Linked DNA regions of Homo sapiens. The protein of the gene in region 1 interacts with the protein of each later gene in a biochemical or structural test. Each region holds a gene or a part of one and is shown in the gene's direction. Other genes may lie near its edges.

Region 1 (4,037 bases):
GGAAGAAACAAACTCAGTTTCTTCCTGCTATACTGTCACAACATACTTCTATGACCAAATGTATGGGGCTTTTTCCCACACACCAAGCAAGCAAGCAGTTCTGCAGAGGGCACACAGTGTCCTCTAACTCAGTTTGATTCTGATACTATCTACCTGGAAACAGCATCAGATCCCACAGTTTGAGGGCTCAATCCCACAAGACTTTCCCCCATTTCAGACACCAATCACAAGTAATAGTTTGTCACCTACACCTCTGACCAAGTGGCTATAAATTGGTGTTCCCACTACCCTCTCCTTGGACTCAACTGATTTGCTAGAGCAACTGACAGAACTCAGGAAAACACCTACATTTACTGGTTTATTTTAAAGGATATTATAAGGGATACCAATGAACACCAGATGGAAGAGATGCATAGGGCAGGGTCTGTGGGAAGGGTGGCAGAGCTCCCATGCCCTCCCAACGTGCACCACCCTCCAGGAACCTCTAAATGTTCAGCTGCCCGGCAGCTCCCCACACCCAGTCCTTTTGAGTTTTTAATGGAGGCTTTATTATGTAGGCATGATTGATTACATCATTGGCCACTGGTGATTAGTTTAACTTTTAGCCCCTCATCTCCTGGAGGTTGGGGCGTGGGACTGAAAAATCCTATCCTCTAATCATACCTTGGTCTGTCCTGTGAGCAGCCCCCATCCCGAAGCTTCCAGGGGTTCCCCAACCACTAATCATCTAATAAGCATACAAAAAACACTCTTACCACTCTGGAGATCTCAAGGGTTTGGGGAGCTATATGTCAGGAAACAGGGATGAAGACCAAACATGTATTTCACTGTATCACACCTGTTCTCACCCCTCCCCAGATCTTCTCTCAATTAATATGAGACAAAAAAATGAGTCTGACTTCTTGACCAAAATATCAGTTCTGTCCTTAGCAGCTTTATGGAGGACAGATTTAGTTTAAATTCCTTAGGCATTATGCCCCTGTGGCTCCACTCAATCAGAAATAGGGTCAACGGCAAGGTCAGGGCCTCCAATCTGGGCAAGAGGGAGGCAGCCACGGTATCCACAAGTGTAATTCTCTGAGTGCTGGTTGCTGGGAGGGGCACACCCTGGGCCAGCAAGTCACTTGGCCAAGGGTGGCCAACTGTGAGGTAGCACTGCCCTTTACTCCCTAAAAAAATGTGAATCTCTTTGGAGCAAACTCCTCTTCAGAAATTTGAGCACTTGTTTTCTGAGCAAGGGAATCAGCTAATGCTTTTGACTCCCCATCCATCTTCCTGCATCCTCGTCCCACCTCTCCTGCCCCCACTCACCTGGCTCTGTCTTTACCCACACCATGGTTTTGGTACAAGAACACCCTTTTCCCCATAAGCTACATTGGTCCAGGCCATAAAAATTCATTAGTTCCCTTTCTTCAGGGGCCTTCTGAAATGCTCCCTGGAGAACTCTTTATTCACTTCTTTGCACAAGAATCACATATGTGTGAACACTGGTATTGGCCTTCTAACTCAGTTTCTTCAAACCAGGGTCCTGGTCTGGTTGCCCCTGTCTCCTCCCACTGAGTTTTATCTCCACATAAGTATTGCTCACCAAGAACAGAGCTGTTGACACCACTGGGCCTCAAGCATGCTGAATGCATTGCTGCCAACTGCTCTGCCTTAAGAAGGTTGGAAACTGATGAGGGTGCCACAAATTGTTCACCTCAGCCCTTCTGGGCTGGTTGGAGGAGGCCCTCTCATGAATCAGTCAGCAAATGTTTGACCCCTACCAGGTGGTCCTGGTAATATGTGGTATGAATCATGGTCCTAGATGTCTGCCATAGCAAATAAAAAAGGAAGACAGGGAAAGAAGCTGTCGCCTACAGAGTGGCTTGATGACAGCTGCCTCACTAATTTAAAAAGCCATGTGTAGTGCTTCCTATTTCTCACTATGTTTGGGTGAGTGGGAGAGGGAGAAAGATTATATGGGCTTCGTTGTGACACTGTTCTTAGCCAGTGGGTCAATAGATGAGTTTTGGTTTTGTTTTTTAGAAGACAGGATGAGAAGAGAGTGCCCCCTTCCACCTCCAACATGGCATGCCATGCTAGGTGCTGAAGGAGTTCTCTAAGCAGGGATGGAGCACCGTGCGTGTGTGTGTGTATATGTGCACGTGTGTGTGTACGTGTGTGTGTGTGGCAGGTCTAGAGGGTCGATGGCTCTTTCCTGCCTCTTGCCCTTGGTATGGGTACCTTAGTGATGCATCATGGCCCTCCCTTAGGACACACAGCTTCGCAGTGCCAGTGAACCCACTCCTTTTGGCTCCTCCTCTGGAATGATAAGCCCAGATGCCCATGCTGCCCGTGAAGGGCTTCTTCTTGAACTGAATGTGGAGGGCATCTCTGGTCCCGGCCATCTGCCAGTGACTCTCATGTGCATTCATGTCCCTCTCTTCTCTCTGTCCTGTCTTCTCTGCCGCTGCCTCTTCTCTGCAGGTACACTTGCTGAAGGACCAGTTGGCTGCTGAGGCTGCGGCGCGGCTGGAGGCCCAGGCTCGCGTGCATCAGCTTTTGCTGCAGAACAAGGACATGCTCCAGCACATCTCCCTGCTGGTCAAGCAGGTGCAAGAGCTGGAACTGAAGCTGTCAGGACAGAACGCCAGTAAGCCAGTGCCCTGCCCAGCCCTGCTTCCTCTGTGAAGGCTCTGGAAAGAGTGTCACTTTCCTTAAGTTTTTGGTGGTGCTTTCTTGGACCCCTGACCTACCCCTATATTCCAGCAGAAAACATAGGCAGCTTTGTTTTCCCATTAGTATACTTAATGAATTACAGAATCACATGCCCAAAGGAGATCTCGGGTGCCTTCTAATCCAGGCCCAGGGCTGGACTTTGAATGTCCCCGGAGTCACTGCTATGTGCTCATCCAGTCTCTATTTGATAGGGGCTCAGGTACTCTGTGTTCTAGGGCAGCCCATTTCTTTCTCAGAGAGCTTTTGCAATCAACAAACAGTATACTTGGCACCTATTGGGTGTCATGGTCTCTGTGAGCTCTGTGGGAGACAGCAGATTGTTTCTTAGTTTACTACTCTGCACTATGTATTTCAAGACTCTGTCACACAGAAAAAGCTGGGAGCAGTATATCTGTTCAGTGGATAAGGCAGTGGAATCTGGCTGCACTGCTCTGCTGGGCAATAGCAGAGGTTGCCTGGCCCCTGCTTGAGAAGCTGTCTCTACACTCAGTACCCCTGGGCTGGGCTGGGCAGCTGTAGATCGCAACACATTTTCACGCCTTCCTCTTGAGCCTTTCCGTGGGTTGTTTGCATGCTCAGAGTGTGTGTGGGCTGTGGACCAGCAAATAGCCATTGATCACATATTGTGCCAGAAACTGTGATAGAATTTTTTGCCTGTGAGCTCATTTAATCCCTGTAGTTCTGCTGCAGAAAAATGGGATGCCATTTTACAGATGAGGTAACAGACTCAGGGAGGTTAAGTAACTAGCTCAAGGTTATAGGCCTAGCAAGGAGCAGAGCCAAGATTCAAACCTAGATCTGATTGCAAAATTTTGTTCCAACTATACCAGTGGTTCCCCCAAACCATCCCATGAGCTCTTTTAAAAATGCGTCTTTCCTACTGAGATCCTACATCGTTCTGTCTAGGGCTGGTCTGGGAGCCTGTATTTTTAAAGTAGCCCAGAGGTGTGGATTGGAAACCAGTGCCCTTCACCACTCTGGAAGCCTCTCTGGATTTTCCAGATTGTTCATTGAAACTCTGCTCTATCCTAATTAATGCTTATTTACATGATTGTACTAAAGGTTACCACAGGCTTCTAACATGGTTCTCTCAATTGGTACCTTTTTCCTACCACTAACCCTATTCAGAGCCTTCAGTGGCTACCAGAACCATCATATGGTTCTTATGTCCCCGCCTTTACCACGTCCCAAAGCTCCTCCCCTCCAGCGAGGTGTGTCTGGAGCTATGTGGGGGCGGGAGGAAGGGTGAAGTGTTAAGAGACCCAAAGCCCGGAGAGGTGCTGCTAAGCTGGTCTGGGAAGGGCTTTGGCAGGGCA
Region 2 (3,500 bases), on another chromosome or scaffold:
TCGGCTCACTGCAACCTCCACCTCCCAGGTTCAAGCAACTCTCCTGCCTCAGCCTCCTGAGTAGCTGGGACTACAGGCACATGCCACCATGCCCAGCTAACTTTTTGCATTTTAGTAGAGACAGGGTTTCCCCATGTTGCCCAAGCTGGTCTTGAACTCCTGAGCTCAGGCAATCTGCCTACCTCCGCCTCCCAAAGTGTTAGGATTACAGGCATGAGCCACCGCGCCAGGGCGAACTGTGTATTTTTAGGAAAGCTACTCATGTAATTAGGGGAAGAAAAGAAAGAAAGAAAAGAAAAGAAGGAAAAGAAAAGAAGAAAAGAAAAGGAAAGAAGGAAGGAAAGAAGGAGGGAAGGAGAGAGAGAGAGAAAGAAGGAAAGAAGAAAGAAAGAGAAAGAAAGAGAGACAGTAAGAAGGAAAGAAGAAAGAAAGAAAGAGAAAGAAAGAAAGAAAGAGAGAGAGAGAAAGAAGGAAGGAAGGAAGGAAGAAAAAGAGAAAGAAAGAAAAGAAAGAAAGAAAGAAGAAAGAAAGAAAGAGAAAAAAGAAAGGGAGGAAGGGCAGGGAGTGCACAGAGGGGAGAAAGGAAAGAAGGAAGGAGAAGGAAGGGAGGGAGGGAGGGAGAAGGAAGGAAGGAAAGAAAACTGCCTCAACAAATCAACTTTGTCTATTCTCTATCTGTACACTAATACAACTTTTATCATAGTAATAACGCAACACATATTTATATATTCTTACTTAGACTTAAATTATTTTCTAACCACTCTCCAAGTAGCTGCATGATCTTTTAAATCCTCTCTTTTAAAAAAAGCTATTTAAACATTAGAACATAATGCAGTTTACTATAGTAGTTAAAAAGGATAATTTTAAAGGAAATAATAAACATTATGTTTAGCTCTATCAAGATATACAAACAATATGTTCTATCTCTTTGTTACAATTTTTGACAAAGATTATGCAATTCATGATCTGCTATTTTGTGTAAAAATATGTCTTGAGATTTTTTTCTATGACAGTTAATGTTCCTTAAAAACACTGATAACTTTTTGATAGATTTCATCTATCCCATCATTTGCTTGTATTCATTGAGTCCACTTTAAAATTTTACATTTAGTTTTTTCCCCCACTTGTTATTGCTATCAGGCATATCACAACAATCATTATTTGAATGGTTTAATAGAAAATTAAATGTTTGCTATATACCAGGTAACCTCAGCACTTGTTATGTGGCTGAGAAAAATGCAGAAAAAGCCACTGCTTTCATTGAGCTTGCATTTTATTAGGTGATATGATGTTAAGTAAATCAATAAAGAAGACAAAAATAGTAAGTAAATAAATGAGACAAAATAATAATATGTAGGAAGGACTGATATTTGCTCAGACTTTTATGCAAATTCTTATTTCCTTTAGTCTAAATTCTGAGCTTTGGAAACCCCATGTGGAAAAATATTTTAATGTATTCAAGATATTAAATCCATGTGTACAAATTGCCTCCTACAAGTCATCTTAACTTATGCGGCCATCAGAAGTGTCTATGAGAGTGCCTGTATATTTACATTCTGACCAAATTAAAATCAAAGACTACTTCTCATTTTAACTTTCTATATACAATTTTCTATAAGCCTTAGTTTACTTGAATTTTTTTAATACTTCAAGTTCTGGGATACATGTGCAGAACGTACAGTTTTGTTACGTAGGTATACATGTACCATGGTGGTTTGCTGCACCTATCCACCCATCATCTAGGTTTTAGGCCCTGCATGTATTAGGTATTTGTCCTAATGATGTCTCTCCCCTTGCCCCCAACCTCCCAACAGGCCCTGGTGTGTGATGTTCTACTTGGGAAAATGTTTACATAGGTTAGTGAGGCCTGGCGATAAGTATTCTCATACATCAAATACAATGTAAATCTACCTTCAATTGTTGTATGTAATCAAGGAAGTCCCCCTCCCCTTAGTAAGTACAATGCTGGTGCTTTATGCTTTGTGGCTTGACATTAGACATATAAAGCCATCCTTCAAGCATTCCTTTTCCCAAAGGAAAATTTCATGTAGCATGAGAACAGAGGAGTGGCTTCTAGATTCGATGCTAATGGATTATTTTCCTGCATGCAGATTACCTTCTGGCCTTCTCCTGTGTCAGGATCACTGGTTGATAAGGAAGCCAGTCAGATAGGTGGGGCAGGTGAGCAAATAAGAAGGGGCATCTTCTACAGCCTAAATCAGAGGGGGAGTCTTCTACAGCCCAGCCCTCTCCTGCCATGAGGTATCACTTCTGATGCAAGCTGTGCAAGTTGTAGACTTCTGCCTCCAGAAAATGGATCCCTCAGGTGAGGCTAATTAAAAGTCAGATTTGAATGTCTGGATCACAGAAGAACTTGCCTGTGACCATTAATCAGGAAAATCCTGTCCCTTCTGATGTGTTCATAATGAAGCTACACCAGTAATAACAAAAATGAAGCAATAAGGTTTATCTGGTACATATAGTTTATATGTATGTGCCAGGTGTTGTCCTAAGTGCTTAGTATATGAATTCAGTTTGTATTTACAGCACCACTATCTGTCAGTTATTGTTATTCCCATTTTAGAGATTTGGAAACTGAGGCAAAAAGCAGTTTAAGTAAATAGCCTAAGGTCACACAGCTAGTAAATATCAGAGCTAAAGATATGAATCTTGCAATGTGTCAAAATTCTGTGCTCTTGCACATGATACTACACTGTCTCTGTCTCTCAGCGTAAATATTGATAATTTGGGAAAAAAGATGGGAACCAGAGAGCCAGCCTGGTACTGATGAGAGAGCAAAGGTTTCAGAAAAAGGAATTTGGCAACAAATGCCACTTCTGTTACTAAAACATTACCCTTTATGAGTGTATTGGGCACTATGAACTTCAGTTCTTCATCTGTGAAATGCAGCTATGGATGCAGAGGGTGCTGTGAAGATTAGGAATTGGTTAACTGATTTGTGAATGCATTTTTGTCTGTTAATTCATATCAGTTACTTCGAGTACCTTCTATGTGCCAAGCACTCCACTAGGTATTAAGGATAAATACAACAGTATAAGAGAGTTGAACTCACAAAAATTCCAGCTGATGAAGGAGTTTAGGAAGGGCATTTTGGAGGAGGCTTTTAATGAACTGAAACCTAAGTGACTGTGAAAGGGCTCCACAGAGGAAGATGTGTCATGGCAGGGGTTGGAGTCCAGCCAGTAGGAGGGGAGGAGCAACCTGGTCCAAGGAATAATGTATAAACTTGCCCAGAGCTACAAAGAAGTATGTGTCCCTTCAACAAGGCAAACAAGTTTGTTACAGCTGTAGTCATCTTGGGTATGAGGTTGGTGTTGGTGTTTGGATGGAACAGATCATAGGAAAAGGCCTTAATAAAGCACATGAACTTTATCTGAGGAACAAAGGACAGCCACTAAAGCATGTCAAGCATAGGGAGGGACTGAGGTTGCCCATTTAAAAATCCTCTTCGAATGCAACGTGAGATGGAGATGAAGGGG

The links.
Region 2: the proteins of NOS1AP (region 1) and SNTG1 interact in a test that uses a peptide from one of them, tested with the Homo sapiens proteins (one large-scale study listed by IntAct).

Annotation. Positions count from the first base shown.
Region 1 is NC_000001.11:162,362,935-162,366,971, forward strand, and holds part of NOS1AP (carboxyl-terminal PDZ ligand of neuronal nitric oxide synthase protein), read left to right. Parts: intron 1-48; exon of another isoform or gene 49-2,415; coding exon of another isoform or gene 2,416-2,469; coding exon 2,470-2,635; intron 2,636-4,037. UniProt on the Homo sapiens protein: Adapter protein involved in neuronal nitric-oxide (NO) synthesis regulation via its association with nNOS/NOS1. The complex formed with NOS1 and synapsins is necessary for specific NO and synapsin functions at a presynaptic level.
Region 2 is NC_000008.11:50,659,907-50,663,406, forward strand, and holds part of SNTG1 (gamma-1-syntrophin), read left to right. Parts: intron 1-3,500. UniProt on the Homo sapiens protein: Adapter protein that binds to and probably organizes the subcellular localization of a variety of proteins. May link various receptors to the actin cytoskeleton and the dystrophin glycoprotein complex.